2 separate regions of the Homo sapiens genome follow, and region 1 is linked to region 2. A link means that fine-mapping ties the variant in region 2 to the plasma level of a protein whose gene starts in the linked region. Region 2 holds a variant in brackets. A gene starts in the other region. All regions are shown on their forward strands.

Region 1 (16,484 bases), not on the chromosome of region 2:
AGGTGGCGAGGGCTTGCACTCAGGCAGGGAAGCAGGCTGCAAGGAGAACAGTGTCAAAGCCTGACGGGAGGCCATGTTCAATGACAGACTGGGGGCATGCTTGAGTTTCAATGAAAAGGATAAATAGGGAAAGGGTCTCATGACAGCAAAAGAAGATGCAGTCAGAATTTCATTAATGGATTCATATATATGGCATATATTCACATATACTATATATGCAAAACCAGAATGCTAGAATGGAATCACCAATTTTTCAAGGAGTATAAGGTTTATGCTGTGAGAAGGGGACAGAAAACATGTGAGGGATGGACAAATATCACAGCACATGGAATGACAGCAAAGCACTCGGTAGGCAAGGGGAACAAACCCTGTGACAAAAAAATTCAACTTAAAATGGTAGCAAAATGGCCACTATAAAATCTAAAACAGAAAAATAAGGCCCTAAACAGAGGAAGTCTTGAAAAAATGGAAAGTGATCATAATTAATAGATTAAGAAAGCATAGGATTCTAAAGATGATATAGACATCATCACATTGATCTCTTCTTGGTATGTGAGGGAGGGAATACCTTAAATTTATGTTTTTTAAAAATCGTTCAGAAAAAAAGACAAATTTGTCACAACCCTTATTTCCATAAAGGCTTTTTAAATACTTAACATCAAAGGCAATAGAGGGAAAAAATTGTCTTTAATTTTCACATATCCTCTCTTACTCTTCTACAGGACCAAGTAATATATCCAGGACTTTGGAATGAATTTGTTTGTTTGGTTTCAATACTATTATGTAAATTATAATAAAAATAGCAATAAAAATATATTACATGTCTTCTTCAATTTGGAGTCATTAAGTCTCTTTTGAGTAATTCAGAACTAAAATGTTTCTATGGGGTTCTTACATGATAATTCCTACTAGAGGCATCAAGGAATTTGCAATGATTTGTTTTGTCTTTGCTCCTGAAGAATCTATTCATTCTGTATACTCGTGTCCATTAAATTCAACTAAAGTCTATTCTACAATAAAAGGGAGTAAACTTCTGATACAGAAAAAAACCCTGATGAGTTTGAAAATCATTATACTGGGTACAAGAAGCCTGACACAAAAATAATACATACTATTTGAGTTTGTATAAAATTCTAGAAAGTATACACTAATCTAGAGTCACAAAAGTAAGATCAGTAGCTCAGGAGCAAATGGGGTCTTACAAAGAGATATGAGGCAATTTGGGGAGGTGATGGAAATGTTCTCTATCCTAATTGTGTTGGTAGTTTCATAGGTGTGTACCTATGTCAAAAGCTCATGGAATTGTGCCCTTTAAGTTAATGCAGTTGTGTACTTAAATCATACCTAATTAACTTATTTAAAAAGTCAACTACATAATTATTTTAAAATAAAAAGTTTAAAAATTCAACTAAAGATGTAATAGAAAGGGATTAGATAAAGAATTTTTCCAATGGTCTCATCAAGAGTCAAGTTCTGGGCCCGGCGCGATGGCTCACACCTGTAATCCCAACACTTTGGGAGGCCGAGGCGGGCAGATCACCTGAGGTCAGGAGTTTGAGAACAGCCTGGCCATCTCTACTCAAAAATACAAAAAAATGAGCCGGGCATGGTGGCAGGCGCCTGTAATGCCAGCTACTTGAGAAACTAAGGCAGGAGAATCGCTTGAACCCGGGAGGCAGAGTTTGCAGTGAACCAAGATCGTGCCACTGCACTCCAGCCTGGGTGACAGGAGCAAAACTCTGTCTCAAAAAAAAAAAAAAAAAGAGTCAAGTTCTGCCTTCTAGATGGTGGCAATTTGTAACATTGAAAGTTGGTATACCATTCTTTGAAGAGCCTAATAAGCACTTTGGATCCTGTAAGTGTTTGGAAAGCAGCACCTCCTTCTAAAAAGTGGTTTATTCATGGAGCTTCCATCTGAACAAACAAGCTGAAATCACAGATGCTAAACAAACAAGCTGAAGTCGCCGGATGCTAAGGAAGAGCAGTATTCAGTCATTTTCTGTTTGCCCAGGAACAGACAAACAATTTTGCTTCCAGTCTACTGCCAAGAGCCTGTGTTCTCAGTGAAGCAGGTGCTCTCAGCGAGGGTGTATCTGGTGGGAATATGAACAACCTGAGCCTACACCTGTGGCCAAACAAGGAGCTGCCTGTCCCGCATCTTCTATGGTCAGCTCTTATCCATCTTAAGGTGAAGATGAATAAGTAACAACAGCCCACTCATGACCACATCACCAGGATTCTCTCCCACACGGGCTGGAGCCCTCTGTTTTATGTTCAGTGGTGAGGACCCCTTAAGTCATGGCACAGGCAGGGCTAAGTGTTAGCCAGGAACCACTACAAATTTCCCTTTCATGCAAAAGAGCTGCTCAGAATGAGTACTTACCTTGAGCACCACAGGACTGGGCCCATCAGCTCTATCTCTGATCTAGGCATAACTCTCCCATTTACCCCGAATCCCCAAGGAAAAAAAGGCTAGAAACAATAGTAACTTTGGAGGAGGGCTGCTACCAAACTGTTTCAGAGCAGTTCTGATTGAGAAAATATTTTTTTAAAAAGCAGTTACTATTTCCTCTCTCAATATGCCTTTATAGGGTTAAGCATGCAAACTGTGAGGTCTTCACCGGCCTTAAATTTTCAACTACAAAATGGGTATAATAACATTACCTACATCATAAGATTGTGGCAAACATTGAATAAAATAAAATATATAAAGTGTTCAGGAAAATGCCTAATACAGAGAGAGTACTCAATACCTAAGAGCTATTATTTAGGTAAGAAAACCTCAGATCTTATGCTGAAAGCAACAGAGAGTAAAAAGATAAGAGTAATGTTGAGAAAAAGATCGAGGGATAAGACAAAAGGAGCAAAACAATCTCTGAAATAGAGCCTGAGTTTTCTGTGCAAGCTGTAGAAAACAGCCATATGAAACGCTCAGTACATAAAGGACACCTTTGCCTTCCTTTCTCAGGAAATCAAAGAAATCCAAGTTTTTAAGAAAATCAGTTTTTAACACTCAGCCAATCAACCAATTTATCTCTAGGCGTTTTCTCCTTGAGAAATATTGTGAAGAGGGATTTCCTTTTGATTGTGGTGCCGTGTGTTTTACAAAGCAGCAAGGAAAGGCTTTTATACACAGCTGAGCAACAAACAAAGAAAAGCTGACCAGACCTATCAAGTGGGACTCATTGATTTGATGGGAGAAACTGTTGCTTGACTGCAGGTTGCAGATGATTTTAAATTGGATGGGCTTGAGAACATCTAAGAAAGAAGGAGGTAATTTTAAAAATTGGAAGTCTATGAACTTTGAGTAGCATAATGTAACAATAGGTGAGACAGAGTCAAAAATACTCAGTCCTTTAGAAGAGTAAGAGAGAATATGTCAAGATTATGTCAAAAATACCTGTACAGATGTGGAATGGGAAAAGACCAACTTGGTACAAATATAGCCTAACACCTCAAGTTGAGCACAACCTGAATATAAGTCAGCAATGTTCATGATTGTAGGCTGTATAAACAGGAGCTTAAGGTATATGATTGGAAAATAACCCCTTCCAAAATCCTCAGCATCAGCTAGCAATAAAGTTAAAAATGCAATTCCAGGGAATTAGCCTGGAACTTTTCCAGATTGTCTGGAGTAAACTGCCAAGAAAGTGGAGTGACACTTCAGAAAGATTCTTCTTTCTGTTTTCAGTGTTAACTCTCATTTTCTCCATCTTTTTGACCCAGTATCTCTTCTTATGGGATTTACAACAAATATGTCAATATTATGATGATAACTGTATAATCAACCCATTAGGTACCTACCAGACGATCTTGAATTTTATCTACAAGGGTTGGATCACTCAACAGTAAAGTGGGTTCACTGGATGAATCCCCAGAAATCAAACGAAGTTTGGCTTCATTGACTACCGTAGAAAGTGCAATGGTGATAAATGATATTCCTGAAATTCTGGCATCTTCAGAAATACTTTGAACATCTGGATTCTTTGGATGGTCGATGCCATCAGTCATCAGCAAAACCACTTTCACACCATCCTTACGCCCTTCTCTCTTAAGTAGCCTAGTGGCATTGGAAATGGCATAATAAGAGAAGGTACCTTGCCCTATTAAATTCATAGACTTGACCTTCTGCTTAAATGTCTGCAGGTCCTTCCAGGAAGAAAAAGGTGGATCAATTTGGACAGAGCTGCTAAACTGAAGGGCTGCCAGTTTGATGTCATATTCCAAGGAGCGACCAGGAGTCAATTGGAAAATCTTGTCACTCAAGCTATCCACAAAATCTTTCTGTTTATCAAAGAGGGCAATTTTAGAACTTTCAGAGCTGTCCACGATGAAGACAATATCTATGAAACAAATGGAGCCTGAAACAGAATAAACAGGTTAGGCAAAATAATTATTCCTATCATGAAACAAATTTGCATACGGAAAGCCCTGAAGTGGTGTGTTGTATATTGTTTGGTGTTGAGAGCAGCGTGAGGAGAGAAAGAGAGACACGTTGGACAGAAGGCTTCAATTGTAAAAAACTAAATGTCTAAGTTTATGAATTATTTTCTCCTTGTAAAATCATGCAAATTAAAAATAAATAAGATATCTTTTATTCTGAGCATCTTTTCAATGTTAAACCTGCTGAAAGTGGGAGGAAATGGGAAGTCAAGATGCATCACATTTTAAAAATCCAACTAACACTGAGCATAGTTGTCTAGAAGTAAATGATACTCTAATTCTCAGGTTGTGTCATATTGGTGAGTCCCTATTTTTTTTTAAACTTTCTTGAAATCAAGGGAGAAAATGACTATACCCCCTATACCAAGAGTAAGTGGAGAAGAAACCTAACTTAAACACAACTTAAGTTTAAATCCCAGCTCTGTGTCTCAGTGGTTAATTTGCCTATGGCCTTGAGTATGCCACTCGACCTGTTAAGACCTCAATTTTTTTAATCTACACTATGAGTGGCAATCTCCGTCCTGCCTATTTTACAAGGTTACTGTGAGGCTCAAATGAGATAATAAGTGCACAAGTGCTCTTATTAAAGACTCTGATGTGCTATAAGTATGTAAGGTATATTATCATCATATAATTTTATCAAAGTAGACTATCACATGTATACATGTATATGGCTTGCTATTTATATCAAATGCTATTTAGAAAAATTCACATAAGTATTTTTAACAGGCTAAACTTAAAAACAAACAATTTTTTTTTTTTTACCCTGGACATCACTTTTCCTTGCAAGCAAATTTGATTTTGGTCCTTTCTTTCTTTGTCCGGATACTGTTTGACTCGTAAACGCTGACAAAAGCAGGAGATAGAAGACAAAATATCTGTTCCACATTATGGTAGATGGTGAAAAATCATCTGTCTTGTAGCACCTTTAATAGAAAAGTCAGTTACAAATACTTTAATAAAATATGGTGTTTGTTATTTTTAAATTTCAAGCCAGCAGGGTTGAAAACTGGCATGTGACTGGAAAAAAGAGGTTTTCATTCATATTTCTAGAAAAATATTCACATTGAGATTTTGAAAGATTTCAATCCAAATAAATCATGGCACCATGACCAAACATTTATTAGTGAATATTTCTATATATTCAAAGAACTATATTTAAGTATTCTTAATTCCGCATTGTATTTTGAGGAGCATAGAGTTGGGAGAGCCATTTAAAAACATTTCAATCCCGCTCTATATGATTACTGTGGTTCAATCACAGGGTCTGCTTTGACATTTCCAAATTCTTCAGGGGGAATTCAGATTGCTATATGGTCATTTCATTCACTTTCATTATAACTGATTCCTGACAAATCTAGTATTTTGTAGAACTGTAGACAACCACCACCCTTTCAGGCTTAATACTACACACATAACTTCAGTGAGTTCAGAGGTCAAGGTAAAAATTAAACGACCCTTCTGTTTCCATAGAACCCCATCTCTCTTTTCTACCCTAGCTTTGGAAACTTTGTCTCCACCAGGGGTTCAAAGCTGCATATGCAATGAATCAAAAGAGTATGAGAGCAAAAATAATAGATTTGCTTAAAAGCAACACTCTTCTTCCAGTGATGGCTAAAAGAACTAATGGACAGAAACGGGACTTAAAGCCAAGAAGCACCCCCTCTGAATAGCCCCGTGAAACTATTTTTCTGGGTGGATTAACAACGAAAAATCTAATTCTGTATTAAAATCCTCAATCTTCATCAGTCAATATGCCTAGCTACACACCAACTGACTCTTAAACTGACAGATTTCCCTGGGAGGAGAAGACTCATGTGTTGCTGCCTCAGTATACCCAAGAGAATGGGAACGAGAAAGCTTATTTCGAATCAATACTTAGTATGGCTTAAAAATGCTTGCCTGCTGAAACTTTATTGACTTCAGGAGTTCTGGAAAAGGAATCACATTTTCCTTCTTTGGCACCTTGCCTTTAGGGGATAAGAATCTGGGAAATCATGAGCACGATTTTTCCAGACTCTGAGTAGAGAGTGGAAATATATGCAAAGGCAGTGAGGAGTGAGATGGAGACTGACTTTTTTCATACATGCCAGATGGATAAACCCCAAAGGGAAACAAAACTGTTGGGTTAGGAGAGGACCAATGGATGGCTTCATGCCACAGTCTGCTCCTCACATAGCATCATCCAGCTGGAAGTGTATTAAAAGAACTTTGGATAGGTATGACCAAACATCTTGTGTAGCAATTGGCCAAATGCCAACTGATCCTCAGACAAGGTATACTAAAATGTAAAGACAGCTGGGTATTAAAAACAAAACAAAACCAAGAAATGTGCTAAGGAAACAGAACACACAAAGGCCATCTCTCCTCAAGTTGTCCCTTTGCTAACCAAGGAAAAAAATAAATGATGTACAACTTTAAGTCTGAAGGTTAGTGTAAAGATAAGGCTATGTGAAAAACACAGTTGTTATTGCATTTTCAAAGGGGAAAGGGAATAACACCATGGCCATGGTATTACATATGACTTTTCTCTTTGGTTGAGTTCATACCATAAGGAACATCTCAGAAGTTCTGGAAATAAGAGGCTGAGAACTGAATTCCATTGAGAACTGAGCAAGATTTTATAAGCAACATAATCAAGCAACTCTTCAAAACCCTTCATGTAAGGTTTTAGAAATACTGGCTTTAAATAAAGATTTATCTTTTCCCAAAACTAAGCACCTGCTCTTACTGTTTTCTTGGCATATAATCATGAATTTGTACCTGATCCCTGTATATATGATATTCACAAACATAACTTTTCCATTGACAATAATCCCAGTATCTCATATTTTGTTCTTATTTGCTCTGACATTGTTAATCTAGCTCTCCCAAACCAAAGTCTTGTTATTTCTTTCTGTTTCCCTATTGTAGCCAGAGGACATTTTCATACCTCTCTAGATTTGTTTCTCTAGCTTGTTAGTTCTACTGCTTCCCTGAAATATCTTTCTCGTTTATTAATTTGGCATCTTGAGAGCCCACTCATTTCTAATCACTTTTTACCATGTTTTATTTTGCCTCTGTTTTTAATAATTCTCACCTTTCTCTCTTTCTGATGTCACGTACAAGCAAAATAGGTTTCAGAGGAAACAGTGCCATTAGTTAAGTGAAAGAAATGTGAACCTCTGTGTTTACTATAGGTTACATTTTATAAATGCAGAAACAATCATAATTATTAATCAAATACCGTAGTTTTACTTTTGGCCTAAAATTTATTTGGGGTAAATATCAGGATCAGTAAATAAATCCAAGATACTTTATTTTTTATAATTTTTCAAAAATAAAATGATCTTATATCAGAGTTCACCAACTTTAGTTACAATGTTTGCATCTCAGTTTCTACACAAATAGAAAATGATTGAATAAAGACTTTATTCAAATTGACAAATTAGCCAAGTTGTAAAGTATTCTATAACTAATTCTGAATTGTAAACCCTGTTCCAAATTAAGAAAAAGATGTCCTAAAATATATTAACATCGTTGTAAAACAATTTAGAAGACTGTAAATTAAAAATCCATTTCAAAATAATTTTAAGTTTTAAATTTCTACATTTTAACAATGTTAATATTTTTCTAATAATTGATTTGAAGTAATTGCAGAGAATACAAACTATTGACAAGCTTTCTCACCTAATAATTATGTAAGTAAGTCATTTAGTCTTCCACAGTTCCTTGATGGTCCTATCTGATTTCAAGTGACTAAAATAAATCTGTTATGTCTTACCTTATAAAGTTTGTCAAACAGGAATTAAAGACTAGTTGAGTAAATGCCAACAGCAAGGACTGTGGTTGGGGGTGAAGTTAGCTATTTGATATTGTTCTGTTCTGTGGGAAATAAAAGTGTCTTTGCTTTAGGATCTTTTGCAGTCTTTTGTTCATGTTTATTCGACTAAGTCAAAGCAAGAGTGGTCAGGCATTTGGCCAGGGTGCAAGATCTGGGTGGGATCAGTAAGCAATTTAAAGGAACAGTGTCCTTTCAGAATGAGACTGTGTTTTCCAGACTATTGTAAAAACAACTTGAGAGAACTTTCTACATTTTAGGCATTGGTTGACAGCCTGCCTTTTTTTCTCATGCTATGTCCTTCTCTTTTTATTGCTACATTTCTTTGCCTGGGGGATGTGCTCTAAGATACTGGTTCTGAACATCTCTGTGAAGGAGTATAAATGACACCAGACTCAGAATCAAAGCTGTTTTTTTAAGAGAGGTAACAGTTTGATTGTTATTAAAGCTGGATGATGAGTACATAGGTGTGCATTGTTCTAGTCTTTGTATTTCTGTGATTTTTGAAATTTTTTATAATAAAAGGTATATATAATATACAGGGAAAGAGTGGTCTGAGTATAGTCATAGTTCTGCCCCTAACTTTTATGGGGGCTTCAGTTCCCCACTTATGAAATGAGAGAGTAGATTTAATCATTTATTAAGATGTGTTCGAACTGTAACATGAGAGGTTTACAGCGGTTAATATTTTGGTCTCTCTCTAGGAAAGGATCACTGTGGTTTTTCCACTCCCTGTTTCCCTATTTTCTACCTTGTGGTTATGGTCCATATTAAGTCAATGTTTATCATGTAATATATACTGCCAAGAAGCCACCTGACCCCTAGACAGCTAACAGGCAGGCTTCTCCACGGACTTCCTCTGAAATAGAGAATAGCAAGATCATCCGAGAAAGCAATACAAATGTGCATGTTACGGTTATTTAAAATGAACTTTCTTAGCCATTTTAATGTGTATGAATTTCCTTATTACAGCAATAATAGCCTCCAATTCATGGACACTTACCAGGTGCTAGGCACTGTCCTGAGTGCTTCACACACATTACCTCATTTAATCCTTCACAAGCACAACCACCTATATACAGTAAGTCCTCACTTAATGTCCTCTGTAGGTTCTGGAAACTGTGACATAAAGTGAAACAATTGATAATGAAGACAATTTTCCCAAGAGCTAATTGATATAAATAAGAGTTAAGCTCTTATGGCATATTCCTAGTCACAAAAACATCACTAAACCTCTAAATACTCAAAACACCTCTAATAATAAACATTGAAATAAATCTAAGCTATATATACATTTATGAAAGATTGATAAAAACAAGATAACTGCTTACCTGCATATTCCAGTTCAGGGTCACGGTTGACCAGATCCTGTCCCAGCAGCTGAGGATACAAGGCAGGAACCAGCCCTGGACAGGATGCAGTACTGTCAAAGGGCACTCATACACCCACCCACTCTCTCAGACAGGCACCATGTAGACACACCAATGCATCTAATGGGCAAAGCTTTGGGATGTGGGAGGAAACTCCAGGACCTGGAGAAAACCCACACAGACATGGGGAAAACATGTCAACTCCACACAGTGAGCCTGGCCCAGGAATTGAATTTTTTTTCTCATCAATGTTATAACAAAATGACATTGAACAAAATATTATTCCAGGACCCCTTGTACTTAGTAGATGTTGTAAGAATTCGAATTTTTCCAAGATGGAGGCAGAGAGAGGTTCAGTAACTTGTCCGCTGTCATACTAAAACCAGAGAATGGCAAAATGAACTTTTAACTCAGGCTGGTAAGACCTGTGAGCCTCACTTATAACAACTACTGCATCATTAAGTATCTATGCGAACGTCTGTGTTTTCACTGTCTCCTCCTCACAAAACAGGTTTCGAGGAACTGAGGAAGTTTTGTGAGGCTTTGGTAACAGAAAGAAGAAACGGTGGGTATAATGCAGAAATAACAACGGAATTTCCTAGGGAACAACCATGTATTTACCTGATAGCCTATGGGTGTTAGTCACACTTTTTACTTTTGTAAGATGAGAATCAAGAGACAAGGAAGTAGCATCTTTTCAGGTCAACTCTCTTTTTGCTGAGGCAGGTTAAAAACATGCAGAATAATAATGCCACTAAGAAGCAAACAGGTGATTCCTAGATGGGGGAAATGGACTAAAGCCCTCCTGCCTTGGAGCTGTTTTGATTAAAGTTGGTGGGAGGTTGGAGTCCAACTTAGTCATCCATTCCCTTTCATTCTCCAACATTAAATAGGGTAACTCAAACCAAAGATTTGCCACCTCTCATTCTCAAGCGTGAAAATCAGCACTAAATTAATTGGGAAGATTATGCAAAATAAAATCTTCAGTTTCATCAATCTATAAAAGACAATTAGTTTTGCACCCAGAGAAACAATGCACCACAATCTTAATCCCAACAGATGGTCTTGAATTAGTATGCTATTGGACTTACACCAGAACAAATAAGAGAGCATGGATAACCATAATGACTAGAAAAAGGCAACGTGGAGCCCATGCCCTTCTGACAGTTATTTTGTAGTAAAAGTCTTTATGGAAGAAATATAGCACACTATTTTCATTGTTACTACTATAAATAGCCCAGAGTAAGCAGTCATATTTGTGAAATAAATGATTATTAGAAGTAATTTTTAGTGTTTATCAGTCACTTGAGGTCTGTGATACAATAAATTGCTCTTCTCCAAAGCTCTGCTAGATGAAAATCTTTTTTCAACTTTTTCAAATTCTTTTAATATGCTACCATAGTAGCATCTGCATTGTGTTTATTGATTCTAGTACCAGTGCCAACATCTTAATTTCAGTGGTGATGATATTTTGGGGTCCTAGAATCATTTAAAAAGAGACAAGTCTGCTAGGACTTACATATTTCAGAGAATTGTATCTGCATGAAGTCATAGAAATACACACAAAAAAAGGCTGGTAACAAATCAAAGTTATATATTTTGACCAAGATTAAGGCATAGTATAGTTTCACAAGCTTCTCCCTATTTTAGCCACCTCCCACACTGCTGATCTAGAGTAGAAAAAAAAAAACATTACCAACTAACAAGGAAGAAATTAATGACCTTCGTACCTGATTTGAAGAAATTTGTTCTTGAAGATCCTTTCCTTTCTTTCTTTCTTTTTTTCTTTTTCTTTCTTTCTTTCTCTTTCTTCTTTTTGTCAGTAGAAAAGCTTGATATAGTAGAATTTCTAACACCTGCCCCAAAGCTCTGAAATTTCTGGGATTCATTATCCTTGGACCCAGAATATGACCTAGGCATTCTCTCAACTCCTTCATCAGTAATTAGAGGAACACTGTCTTAGTCCATTTTGTGTTGCTATAAAGGAATACCTAAGGCTGAGTAATCTATAAAGAAAAGAGGTTTATTTGGCTTACAATTCTGCAGTCTATGCAAGAAGCATGACACCAGCATCTGCTTCTGGTGAGGGCCATTGACTGCTTCTACTCATGGCAGAAGGTGAAAGGGGACCAGCGTGTGCAGATCATATGGTAAGAGGGAGCAAGAGAGCAGGGAGAGAGGTGTCAGACTCTTTTAAAGAATCAGCTCCCCCAGGAACTAATACAGAGAGAACACACTCATTACCGCAAGGATGGCATTAAGTCATTCATAAGGGATCCACCCACATGACCCAAACGTTTCCCATCAGGCCCCACTTCCAACAGTGGGGATGAAATTTCAACACGAGGTTTGGAGGGGGCAAATATGCAAACCATGGCAAACACCAAAACTGTATTGGTCTTATTTGTCAACAAAGGGAAAGATTAAAAGCATTCAAAGACAATAAGAAAATAAAAATTATCATTGGTAATAAAATACAGGATGTGGCATTGCTTAAATGTGGAACAGCGTGACTTCAGTTCCTATGCCCTCACCAAATTCTGATTGAGTTGATCCTTCCACATTCCCTCTACTATTTTTCAATTGTTACTATTATTTAATAAACTTTATGGTTTAGAGCAGTTTCGGGGTACAGCAACACGGACTCAATTATCTTTTATATCGTTTACTCCCTAAGATCTCTTGCTTCATTATTTGTCATTCAATCCCCAGCTTGAATAATTGTGTCACATTTGCAACACACAGTGCCTCATAGGCTACAGTGACAGGCTAAATTCCCGTTATACCAATCTTATGACTATTAATCTCTTTCTCTAAAATATTTTTTCAATATTAATATTTCTTCTTTCCATGTTGTTTATTCCTGACTAAATGCAATTATTTTAGACCAAAAATAAATCAAGGTGCCATCTGGAAAGTTTTACAATTTTTTTTCTAAGAAATATCTGAAAGTAGATTGATCTAGTCCTATCATAGGTTTGAATGTTCAATATTTTTCTTTAATTATTTTCTTTGGTCAATGGATAGAGCAGTTTTAACTTTTTCATGCAGAGCCTACAAATAGAGAAAGATCAGATCTATTTATACCTTGACTAAACTCTGCTTTAAATGGCAAAATATTTCTATTTTTCACTTAGTTCATTTTACTTTCAGATATTAGACAGTGTTATTCTAGATCTTGGTGAATTATTTGATAACCACTGATTGGTATTTAAACTTTTCTTGTATTGGGGACAAACAATAGTGTTAAATCTCTGAACTGGAAGGAAACTTAGAAACCACTTTTATTTAATTCTGCCATTTCACAGTTGATAAAATAGAGGACAGATATTAAGACCCACCCAAAGGTCAAATCATTAATCAGTGAGGGACTAAAATTTAGGTCTTTGTGCATCAAAGTGGCCATCTTTCATTATCTCTAAATGCCCTAGAAAATTTTTAGGCCTTTGCGCTATCCAGGCTTGTGCTTGAGCAGGAGAAAAAGGAAGCTGTATGGCTAATAATTTATATTTATAAGGATTTAACTTTAGTGGCAAATGGCTCAGAACAAATCATCATGGGCTAAGTCCCAGCACATTAAAGAGTCTCACCTCTCACTGTGTAAATCTTAGTGCCTGGGCCATTAAAGGCAATGAACACCACCTCTTCGAACCCTGGGTTGAAAAACTTTCTCCTCCAGGTTTGGACAGGTTTATCTGAGTAGCTGGGGATTGTTACAGCTACTTCAATAACTGATCCCTAATCAAAACATAGCCAGTAATATAGGTAGATATCATCATTTGCATGAATATTAAGTTGTAGAAACACAATACCTACTTGGGTTTTCTGGTCAGTGTATTGAGATTTAATAAGAATATCCAAAAAAAGTTTTAAAATAACTCTTCTAAATTTCTGGAATAAAAGTGTTTTAAGAGCATTAAGTAACTTATTATCCCATGTTATATTAAGCCGTTACAATGCTGGTTTACACAACATTGTTCCCAGTTAAGGTAATAGGGTCATCTGTTTTTTTCATTGCATCTAAATTATATAGTTCCTCCTGCACAACAGTTTGTTTCTCCTTCTGCCCTTAGAAATTCTATACTAAGGGTAAATTATTCATGGACAAAATTTATAGAAAAGGGGACTTGAGGTGAATTTTTTTTTTCCTATTTGGGGATATGAACAACCTTTTAATAATACTAAATTCTACACAGAAATAAAGTACCTATTATCATTATTCATTGTTTATATCCAGAACTATAGATTTTGAAATCACATATATAATGTTATTTAATGTTGAGTAACTTTTACTTAATTATATATTTTCTGTTATTCTAATTGACCAAATTCAGAAATGCCAAATACTAACACAATTTAGTCAGGACTCTGCATGGGTCTTCAGGAAGTGTTGTTTGAAAAAAGATATTTGGGCACCACCTTGTGGGACTTTGTAGAAAGACATAGTGTGAGAGTTTGTCAACTATTGTTAACAGATGAAAAATTTTAATCGTCTGTGATGCTGAACGGGTGGAATAAAAGTTGCTTTCTACAGCTTTTTTGGGCAGAAGAATGAGGAGACGAACGAAAGAGTGATAAAACTACTCTTATATAGGATCAAGAAGCTCTCTAAGTAACATCTGATGAAATCCATAACTCATTCACTTAACTAACATCAACTTAGTTTCTACTATATGTGAGGCACTGGATAGAAAACAGATAGATGCAGTCACTTCAACCCAGTGAAGAAAATAAGCAAGTAAAGAGCAATGGCAAGTTTTACCCAAAAAAAAAAAAAATTAAGTAATCACATATCTAACTCTAGTTGACAATACCATGCTGCAGGGTTTGGGAACAAAATTTACCAGTGTCTGCAACTTACTTTGAAATGCATCATAAAGAAAGAAGATGGGGCTGGGTGCGGTGGCTCACGCCTGTAATCCCAGCACTTTGGGAGGCCGAGGCGGGCAGATCACAAGGTCAGGAGATCAAGGCCATCCTGGCCAACATAGTGAAACCCCGTCTCTACTAAAAATACAAAAATTAGCTGGGCGTGGTGGTGCATGCCTGTAATCCCAGCCACTCAGGAGGCTGAGGCAGGAGAATTGCTTGAACCAGTGCGCTGAGATGGCACCACTGCACTCCGGCCTGGCCACAGAGTGAGATCCCATCTAAAAAAAGAAAGAAAAAGAGAAGAAAAGAGACGGGTAGAAGAATGGGTAGATGGGTAGATTATGCAATAGAGCAAATATGTTCATTGTAAATACAATTGTGAAATCTGGGTGGCAGGTAATGGGTTTGCTGTATAATTCTGTTAACTTTTCTGTATGTTTGACAATTTTCATAACAAAATATTAGGCCAAAAAGAGCAAGAGCAATATAGTGTGATAACATCTATAAAAGAGACTTACACAGAGGGCACCCAGGTCAGACTGTGATATGGAAGTTGGAAGTGCAGGAGCAGAGGATAAACAGTGGTTTCTTTTATGCCATGTTAAAGGGTTTAAACTTTATCTTGAAAGCAACGGGAGCCACTGAACAATTTTAAGCAGGGTTGTGACATGATCACACTTTCATGCTAGGAAAATCACTCTGATTGCTGTGTGAATAATGGCAGGAAAACAAGCTTGGAGGCTGAGATCTACTAGGAAACTTACTATGACACCAATGAGAGATAAGGCTCTCAAGTACCAGCAATGAGAATGCAAAGTGAAGAAGTCTAAGAAATATTAAGAAGCAGAATCAAAGAGCTTAGTACCTAATTGGCCTAGGAAAGTGGAAGAAATGAAGGAGAAAGATGGTACCCAGCAGTCTGCCAAAAAGTATTTAATAACTGTCTCTCTGGGGAAAAAAGTGTATTGTACACATATACATACGTAAGTTTATCAGAAATGTTATTGATAAAGAACGTATGGTATAAAATTTTCAAATAATAATAAAATACACAATATTCTCTATTATAAATTCTATATAGCAAACTGATTCATACAGATTGCTTTCATTGATTTTTGGCCAAATTCTTATATCTTTAGCCAATCTATGGTTGTAATTGATGAATGAGTATAGTTCCAACAAGAATGTTGGTTGGCATTTTCCTCTTCTTGAACAAGTAAGACAAAAATGAAACAAAGAAAAAGGTGCATGTGCATTGAAACTTCATTTGTTTGTCAATGATATAAGCAACTTTGTAGCTGAATAATATAATACTTTTCAAATACTGAAACATTTTCTTAGTTTTTTTCTTATTCAACTGTTACAGATAAAATACACTTTTGAGTTTAATCTGCATTATTGTTTTCTCCATCACTTTCTTTGGCCTAGACAATAAATAAGACAGTAATTCAAGCCCTAATTTGTAGCAGATTTCTATTGTGTAAAAAGTCCTACTATGTCAGATTTCAAATTACTAATGTGACATCACTGAACACAGGGTTGCAAAGAGAAACACAAATATATAGCAGCATACCACTATGCAGGATTTCCATCATATAGTTGCCATGGATGCAAACAACTTCAAGTACACACACAATAGTAAGATTTAGTAAATAATTAGGAAGTAATGAGTTTTGAGTATTTATTACTATTGTTTTTAATGTAATTTATTTACTTGTAAGTTAAATATATAATACAACATTTAATAATATCTGCGGTTAACAACTGGCTCAAAAAATTTCTGGAAATTTAGCAGTTGACCCTCACAAGGTGACATGAGCCATCTTCAGCACACCAGAGACTATACCTAACTTCCAGGCTGTGCGGTGCGCTCTTGCCTCTTAAAAGAGTACAGCACACAGGTCTGAGAATTGGTTCTGCCACTTTTTGACGCTGGACCTGTAAGTTCTGAAAGCCTTACACAGTTTCCACATCCGCAA
Region 2 (7,100 bases):
GCTAATTTTTTGTATTTTTTTAAGCAGAGACGGGATTTCATCGTGTTAGCCAGGATGGTCTCGATCTCCTGAACTTGTGATCCGCCCGCCTCGGCCTCCCAAAGTGCTGGGATTACAGGCGTGAGCCACCGCGCCCAGCCCAAATTGGGTCATTCTTGTCATATCCAACTAAATCAGAGTTGAGAGGTCAGAAAAAAATGCACTTAGGGCACATAGCACTTACTCCAAGAAATAAATTATCTGTGTGTAGTGGCTCACGCCTATAATCCCAGTGCTTTGAGAGGCCAAGGTTTGGGAGGATTGCTTGAGACCAGGAATTTGAGACCAGCCTGGGCAGGATAGGGAGACCCTGTCTCTGCAAAATAAACAAATTAATTTAAAAAAAAAAAAAGAGAGAAAAAGAGGCTGCACCATGGTGGCTCAAGTCTGTAATCCCAGCACTTTGGGAGACTGAGGCGAGTGGATCATTTGAGGTCAGGAGTTCAAGACCAGCCTGGCCAAAATGGTGAAATCCCATCTCCATTAAAAATGCAAAAATGAGCTGGGCATGATGATGGTGGGCGCCTGTAATCCCAGCTACTTGAGAGACTGAGGCAGGAGAATTGCTTGAACCCAGGAGGCAGACATTGCCGTGAGCCGAGATCGCGCCACTGCACTCCAGCCTGAACAACAGAGCAAGACTCCATCTCAAAGAAAAAAAAAAAAAAAAGAGGCTGGGCGCGGTGGCTCATACCTGTAATCCCAGCACTTTGGGAGGCCAAGGCAGGCAGACCACAAGGTCAAGAGATCGACACCATCCTGGCCAACATGGTGAAACCCCGTCTCCACTAAAAATACAAAAAAAAAAAAAAAATTAGCTGGGCGTGGTGGTGCACACCTGTAGTCCCAGCTACTCGGGAGGCTGAGGCAGGAGAATCATTTTAACCCGGAAGGTGGAAGTTGCAGTGAGCTGAGATCACACCACTGCACTCCAGCCTGGTGACAGAGCAAGACTTCCTAAAAAAAAAAAAAAGAAAAGAAAAATAAATTTTCTGTGAGGCCAGCTGCTGAAACGTCCTGCTGTAACCCTAAGACCAGTTGGACCTAGTAGCTGCTGAAGTGACCTGCCATCACTCTAAGACTAGTTTAATCTACTGTTGTCACTCACCAATCTGAGCTTGCTAGCTCCCAAAAGTGTCTCTAGCACCAGTGAGCTTCTTTCAAAACAATTCATAATATTTCTCTTGCTCATAAAATTCCCAAACTTCACTTAATTCTTCTGACATACTGAAGACTACCCAGTCTATGTGGATGCCTCATATTGCAATTCTTGCTTCCCAAATAAAACCTGTTATTTTATCTATATTTTTATTTTTTGAGACAGAGTCTCACTTTGTCACCCAGGTTGGAGTGCAGTGGTGCGATCTCAGCTCACTGCAACCTTGGCCTCCAGGGTCAAGTGATTCTCCTGCCTCAGCCTCCCAAGTATCTGGGAGTACAGGTGTCCATCACCACACCCAGCTAATTTTTATATTTTTAGTAGAGATGAGGTTTCACCATATTGGCCAGGCTGATCTTGAACTCTTGACCTCAAGTGATCTGCCTACCTTGGCCTCCCAAAGTGCTGGGATTACAGGCCTGAGCCACTGCACCCAGTCCCCAAATAAAACATTTTACATTTAGAGATTCATTTCTATATTTTATTTGACTTTGACAATTGATATACAAAATTTAACATGGTTAGGAAAATCCAGACCATATAGAATTTCCTTAGAATAAATAACCCAGTGTTTTCAACAACTAAATGGCAAATAAAAAAAAAGATATAGAGGGGAAATGTATATATGAGAAGACATCACACAATCTGAGTACGTGGATTCACTGGGCCTGAATTTTTTGTTTTGTTTTTGTTTTTGAGATGGAGTCTCACTCTTGTTGCCCAGGCTGGAGTGCAATGGTGTGATCTGGGCTCACTGCCACCTCCGCCCCTCGAGTTCAAGCAATCCTCCTGCCTCAGCCTCCCAAGTAGCTGAGACTCCAGGTGCATGCCACCAGGCCCAGCTAATTTTTTTGTGTGTTTTTAGTAGAGATGGGGTTTCAATATGTTGGCCAGGCTGGTCTCGAACTCTTGACCTCAGATGATCTGCCCGCCTTGGCCCCCCAAAGTGCTGGAATTACAGGCGTGAGCCACTGTGCCCAGCCCTGTTAATTTTTTATGTGTGATAATATTGTTATTACATTTAAAGTATGATCTACAGACCCTGGGGTCTCCAAGCCCTTTTCTGGGGATCCAGGAGGTGAATCTTTTTTTTTTTTTTTTTTTTTTGAGACATAGTCTCACTCTATTGCCCAGGCTCGAATGCAGTGGCATGATCACAGCTCACTGCAGCGTCAACCTCCTGGGCTCAAGTGAACCTCCCACCTCAGCTTCCAGAGTAGCTGGAACTACAGGTGCATGCCACTGCGCCCACCTAATTTTTGTTTATTTTTTTGGTAGAGATGGTTTTGCCATGTTCCCCAGGCTTGTCTCAAACTCCTGGGCTCAAGGGATCTGCCTGCCTTGGCCTCCCAAAGTGCTGGGATTACAGGCATGAGCCACTGCACCGGCCACCAGTGGTGATATTAATGTAGTTGTTTGATACTGTATAATAAAAGGTGTCAACATTTAGAACCTCTGCATGAGCTGGCCAGGTCAGCAATGTGTTTCTCAGAAACACCCGCTACACTTTCTCTTTATTTTTCAGGGAAAATTAATAGAGGACAATGTGGTTGTGAATTTTAGAAGGTCTTGAAAAGTACAGCCCACACACGTGGTGCTTACTCAGTGCTGTTACACATAAGGCGGTAAGGGGAATTTATCTTGTGTGTATGTGTGTGTGGGGGGAGTTCTCCATTCTCTTCGTATAGTTCAGTGTTTAGTCTTTTTAAAATATGCATAGTTTTTTACAAAAATAGGATTACGCTGCACATATTCTTGTGTGATCAGTATTATTTCATTTCTCAATGAAATAACCCCCACGTGGGTAATACACATTATCCTTTTTAGTGTTTCCCCAAATTCTCCTTACATATCACCACAATTTATTTTACGTTTACCTACTAAAAGATTTTTAGATCCTTCCCAAGGTTTTGCAAATATAAATGGCAATGTGAGGAACATTCTTGTATATACATCTTTCCATAAGATTATAGGTTATGGTAATTTATAATTTTTAAATGTTGGTATAATAAGATCTTCAGAAAAATTTGATGTGTACACTCACATCACAATGTTGTATATCCATCACCACTTTCTCCTTCCAGAACTTTCTCATTATCCCAAACAGAAACGCTATACCGTTTAAGCACTAACTCCCCATCCCTTTTTATTCCAGTCCCTGGTAACTCTGTTTTACTTTCTGTCTTTATAAATTTGCCTATCCTAGGTACGTCATATAAATGGAATCATACAGTATTTGTCCTTTTGTGTCTGCCTTCTTTCTTTTTTTCTTTTCTTTTCTTTTAAGAAACAGAGTCTCATTCTACTACCCAGGCTGGAGTGCAGTCGTGCAATCATAGGTCACTGCAGCCTCGAACTCCTGGGTCAAGTGATCTTCCTGCCTCGGCCTCCTGAGTAGCTGGGGCCACAGGCACATGCCACTACCTCCAGCTTGGCTTATTTCACTTAGTGTATTTTCAAGTTTTAATCACGTTGTAGCGTGTACCAGAACGTCATTCTTTGATATGGCTGAATAATATTCCACTGTATCCATTCATCAGCTAATGGACACTTGGATTGTCTCCACCTTTGGATATTGTGAATAATGCTGCTATGAACATTGGTGTAAACACCTTTCTATGAACCTGTTTGAGGATATTGTTTTAATTAAAAGCAAGCTGCTACCACTACATACCTATTAGAATGGCCAAAATTCAAGACACTGACAACAAATGCTGGTGAGAAATTGGAGCAACAGGAATTCTTATTCATTGTTGGTGGGTGCAAAATGATGCAGCCACTTTGGAAGACAGTGTTGGCAGTCTCTTACAAAACTAATGATATGGACAGGAGGCAGGAGGGCGGGATTCCTGGTGAGGGTTCTTACCCTCAAGCTTGGACCCATGGCCCTAAATGAGAACAGGCATTCCTGTTTTCACGCCTGTACGTTGCCTTTTCCAAGACCATTGTGGCCCACCCTGCTCTCTATCCTGTGCCCATAAGAACCCCAAATCCCAGGCTCCACAAACAGAAGAGCAGCAGAGGGGCAGAGGGGCAGAGCTGCAGAGCAAGGTGGTGGAGAAGGAGAAAAGAGAAGAAGCAATTGAGCATTGAAGAGGTAGCTGGATGGTCAGAGAGGAATTTGGCCAGGGACAGCAGAACTCCAGGGGACGATTATCTTCCCACGCCATCCCCTTTCCAGCTCCCCATCCTGCTGAGAGCCACCTCCCTCACTCAATAAAACCTCTGCATTTACCATTCTTCAAGTCCATGTGACCTGATCCTTTCTGGATGCTGGACAAGGACCTGGGTATTAAGAGGGCAGGGTGTAAAAGGCTGTCACCCTCACTCTCCACTGAGCTGGTTAACGCTTAGCTGTCCATGGATGGCAACTGCTAGAAGAGCATTAATTGTAACACACCCCTAGATGCTACCATGGGGCCAGAGCCCAAAGGTGCTCACCCTGGCCCTGGCACCCACTTGCCTCTGTGCTCCCCCTCCCATAAGGGGTTTTAGCACAGTGGCTGAGTAAGCTAGCCACGACAAGTCCCGCGAAGGGGTCCAGGGAACTCTCCTGTCTCATTAACATACTGTTACCACACAATCCAGCAACCATGCTAATTTTTTTTTTTTTTTTTGGAGACGGGGTCTCGCTCTGTCGCCCAGGCTGGAGTTCATTGGTGC[A/G]ATCTCGGCTCACTGCAAGCTCCGCCTCCCAGGTTCACGCCATTCTCCTGGCTCAGCCTCCCAAGTAGCCGAGGCTACAGGTGCCCGCCACCACGCCCGGCTAATTTTTATTTTTGTATTTTTATTAGAGACAGGGTTTCGCTGTGTTAGCCAGGATGGTCTCGATCTCCTGACCTCGTGATCCGCCCGCCTCGGCCTCCCAAAGTGCTGGGATTACAGGCGTGAGCCACTGCACCCGGCCGCAACCATACGATTTACCCAAATGAACTGGAAACTTATATCCTCACAAAACCTGAACACAGATGTTTAGAGCAGCTTTATTCATAGTTGCCAAAACTTAGAAGCAACCAATGTATCTTCAGTAGGTGAATGGATTTAAAACACTGGTACATGCAGACAGTAGAATATTATGCAGCACTAAAACGAACTGAGGCTGGGCACAGTGGCTCATCCCTATAATCCCCGCACTTTGGGAGGCCAAGGCAGGAGGATTTCTTGATCCCAGGAGTTTGAGACGAGCCTGGGCAACATGGCAAAATGCCATCTCTACAAAAAATACAAAAAATTACCCAGGCATGGCTGTGTATGCCTGTAGTTTTAGCTACTTGGGAGGCTGAACTGGGAGGGTCACTTGAGCCCAGGAAGTGGAGGCTGCAGTGAGCCATGATCGCACCACTGCACTCCAACCTGGGTGACAGAGTGAGACCCTGTGTCAAAAAAAAAAAAAAAAAAAAAAAGCCAGGGTAACTTGAGGGAAACATGAGGGAAACTTAAATGTATATTACTAAATGAAAGAAGCCAATCTGAAAAAGCAACATATGTATGATTCCACCTATATGACAACCTGCAAAAGGCAAAACTATGGAGACAGTAAAAATATCAGAGATTTCCAGGGGTTGTGGGATGGATGAATAAATGGAGCACAGATGATTTTTTGGGGGGCAGTGAAACTATTCTGTACGATACTGTAATGGTTACAGGCATTTGTCAAGACCCATAGAATGTACAACATCAAGTGAACACTAATGTAAGCTATGGACTTTGGGTGCCAATGATTTTGTTTTTTAATTTATACTTTTTGAGACAGGGTCACCCAAGCTGGAGTGCAGTGGCACAATCTTGGCTCACTGAAACCTCAGCCTCCCAGGCTCAAGTGATCCTCCCACCTCAGCCTCCCGAGTAGCTGGGACTACAGGTGCGTGCCACCATGCCCGGCTAATTTTTGTATTTTTTTTTTTTTTTTAAGAGATGAGGTTTCACCATTTTGGCCAGGCTGGTTTCAAATTCCTCGGCTCAAGCAATCTGCTTGCCTCAGGCTCCCAAAGTGCTAGGATTACAGGTGTGAGCCACTGAGCCTGGCCAGGTGCTGATATTTAACTGTAGGTTCACCAATTGTAACAAATACACTGTTCTGGTGTGGGATATCAACTTTGGGGAGGTTGTGTGTGCTGGGGGGACATGGGTTATATGGGAATTCAATGTATTTTCTGCTCAAATTTTGCTGTGAACCTAAAACTGTTCTAAAGGATGAAAGGAACTGAGGGTGAAGGGAAATGGGAAGATGGTGGTCAAGGGGTACAAAGTCTCAGTTATGCAAGATGAGTAGTTCTGGGGAGATGCACAGCTATGTGACGATAGTTGACAATATTGTGTACTTGAAATTTGCTAAGAAGATAGATCTTAAGTGTTCTCATCAGACAAATAACTATGTGAGGTGATGCACATGTTAATTAGCTTGATTATGGTGAATATTTCACAAATGTAGATATCAAGTTGTACATCTTAAATATATAGATCTCAACAAATATATATACCTCAACAAAGTGGCCTGGGAAAAAAGGGAAAAAAGCTAGTTGCAGCACATGATACCTTTATGGCCAGTTTTGTAACAACAACAAAAAAATCAAAGTGCGAACTTAATGTTATACGCAGTTAATCTTTAGAAAGTGAGATTATGGATACTTTATTTTGTACATATATTCTAATTAAATACAGTTATAGATTATTTGTGTAATGTTTAAAAGCCAAGTTGTTGTATTTAAGGGGGAGGTGGTGAATTGTAGTTCACGACCCACTCTGGGAAAAAAGAAAACAGTGCAGGCTAAGGAGATTATTTTGGTCGGCTCATCAGACCGCCTAACAAGGCGAAGACTTTCCTGAGAGTCCCTAAAGCCGCGGCCCCGGAGGCTTGTGGGAAATGTAGTCCCGAACGTGGATGGTCCACCCCTCCGAGGACCCT

Alleles and levels. Positions count from the first base shown, and alleles are read on the strand shown. Strength reflects both the effect of a copy and how common the allele is.
With allele A in place of G in region 2, the plasma level of the protein whose gene starts at base 8,330 in region 1 is higher (weak association).

Evidence for each region. PIP is the chance, under the fine-mapping model, that this variant and not a neighbour inherited with it causes the effect. The UK Biobank Pharma Proteomics Project read protein levels with antibody pairs (Olink). The fine-mapping took linkage between variants from a reference panel, not from the people measured, so its PIPs are less certain.
Region 1: COL28A1 starts here. The variant in region 2 is fine-mapped to the plasma level of the COL28A1 protein (UK Biobank, PIP 0.93).

What each region holds. Positions count from the first base shown.
Region 1 is chr7:7,527,544-7,544,027 of GRCh38, forward strand. COL28A1 (collagen type XXVIII alpha 1 chain) reads right to left here and starts at 8,330. Exons shown (of 35, transcript NM_001037763.3): 1 at 8,207-8,330; 2 at 5,209-5,369; 3 at 3,805-4,361. The coding sequence starts at 5,332.
Region 2 is chr16:75,141,365-75,148,464 of GRCh38, forward strand. It overlaps a transcript of ZFP1 not described here. Among named protein-coding and RNA genes, the nearest start is that of ZFP1, 3.6 kb to the right of the region's middle. RefSeq lists an enhancer at 6,971-7,020. The variant A/G (reference allele first, on the strand shown) is at 4,862.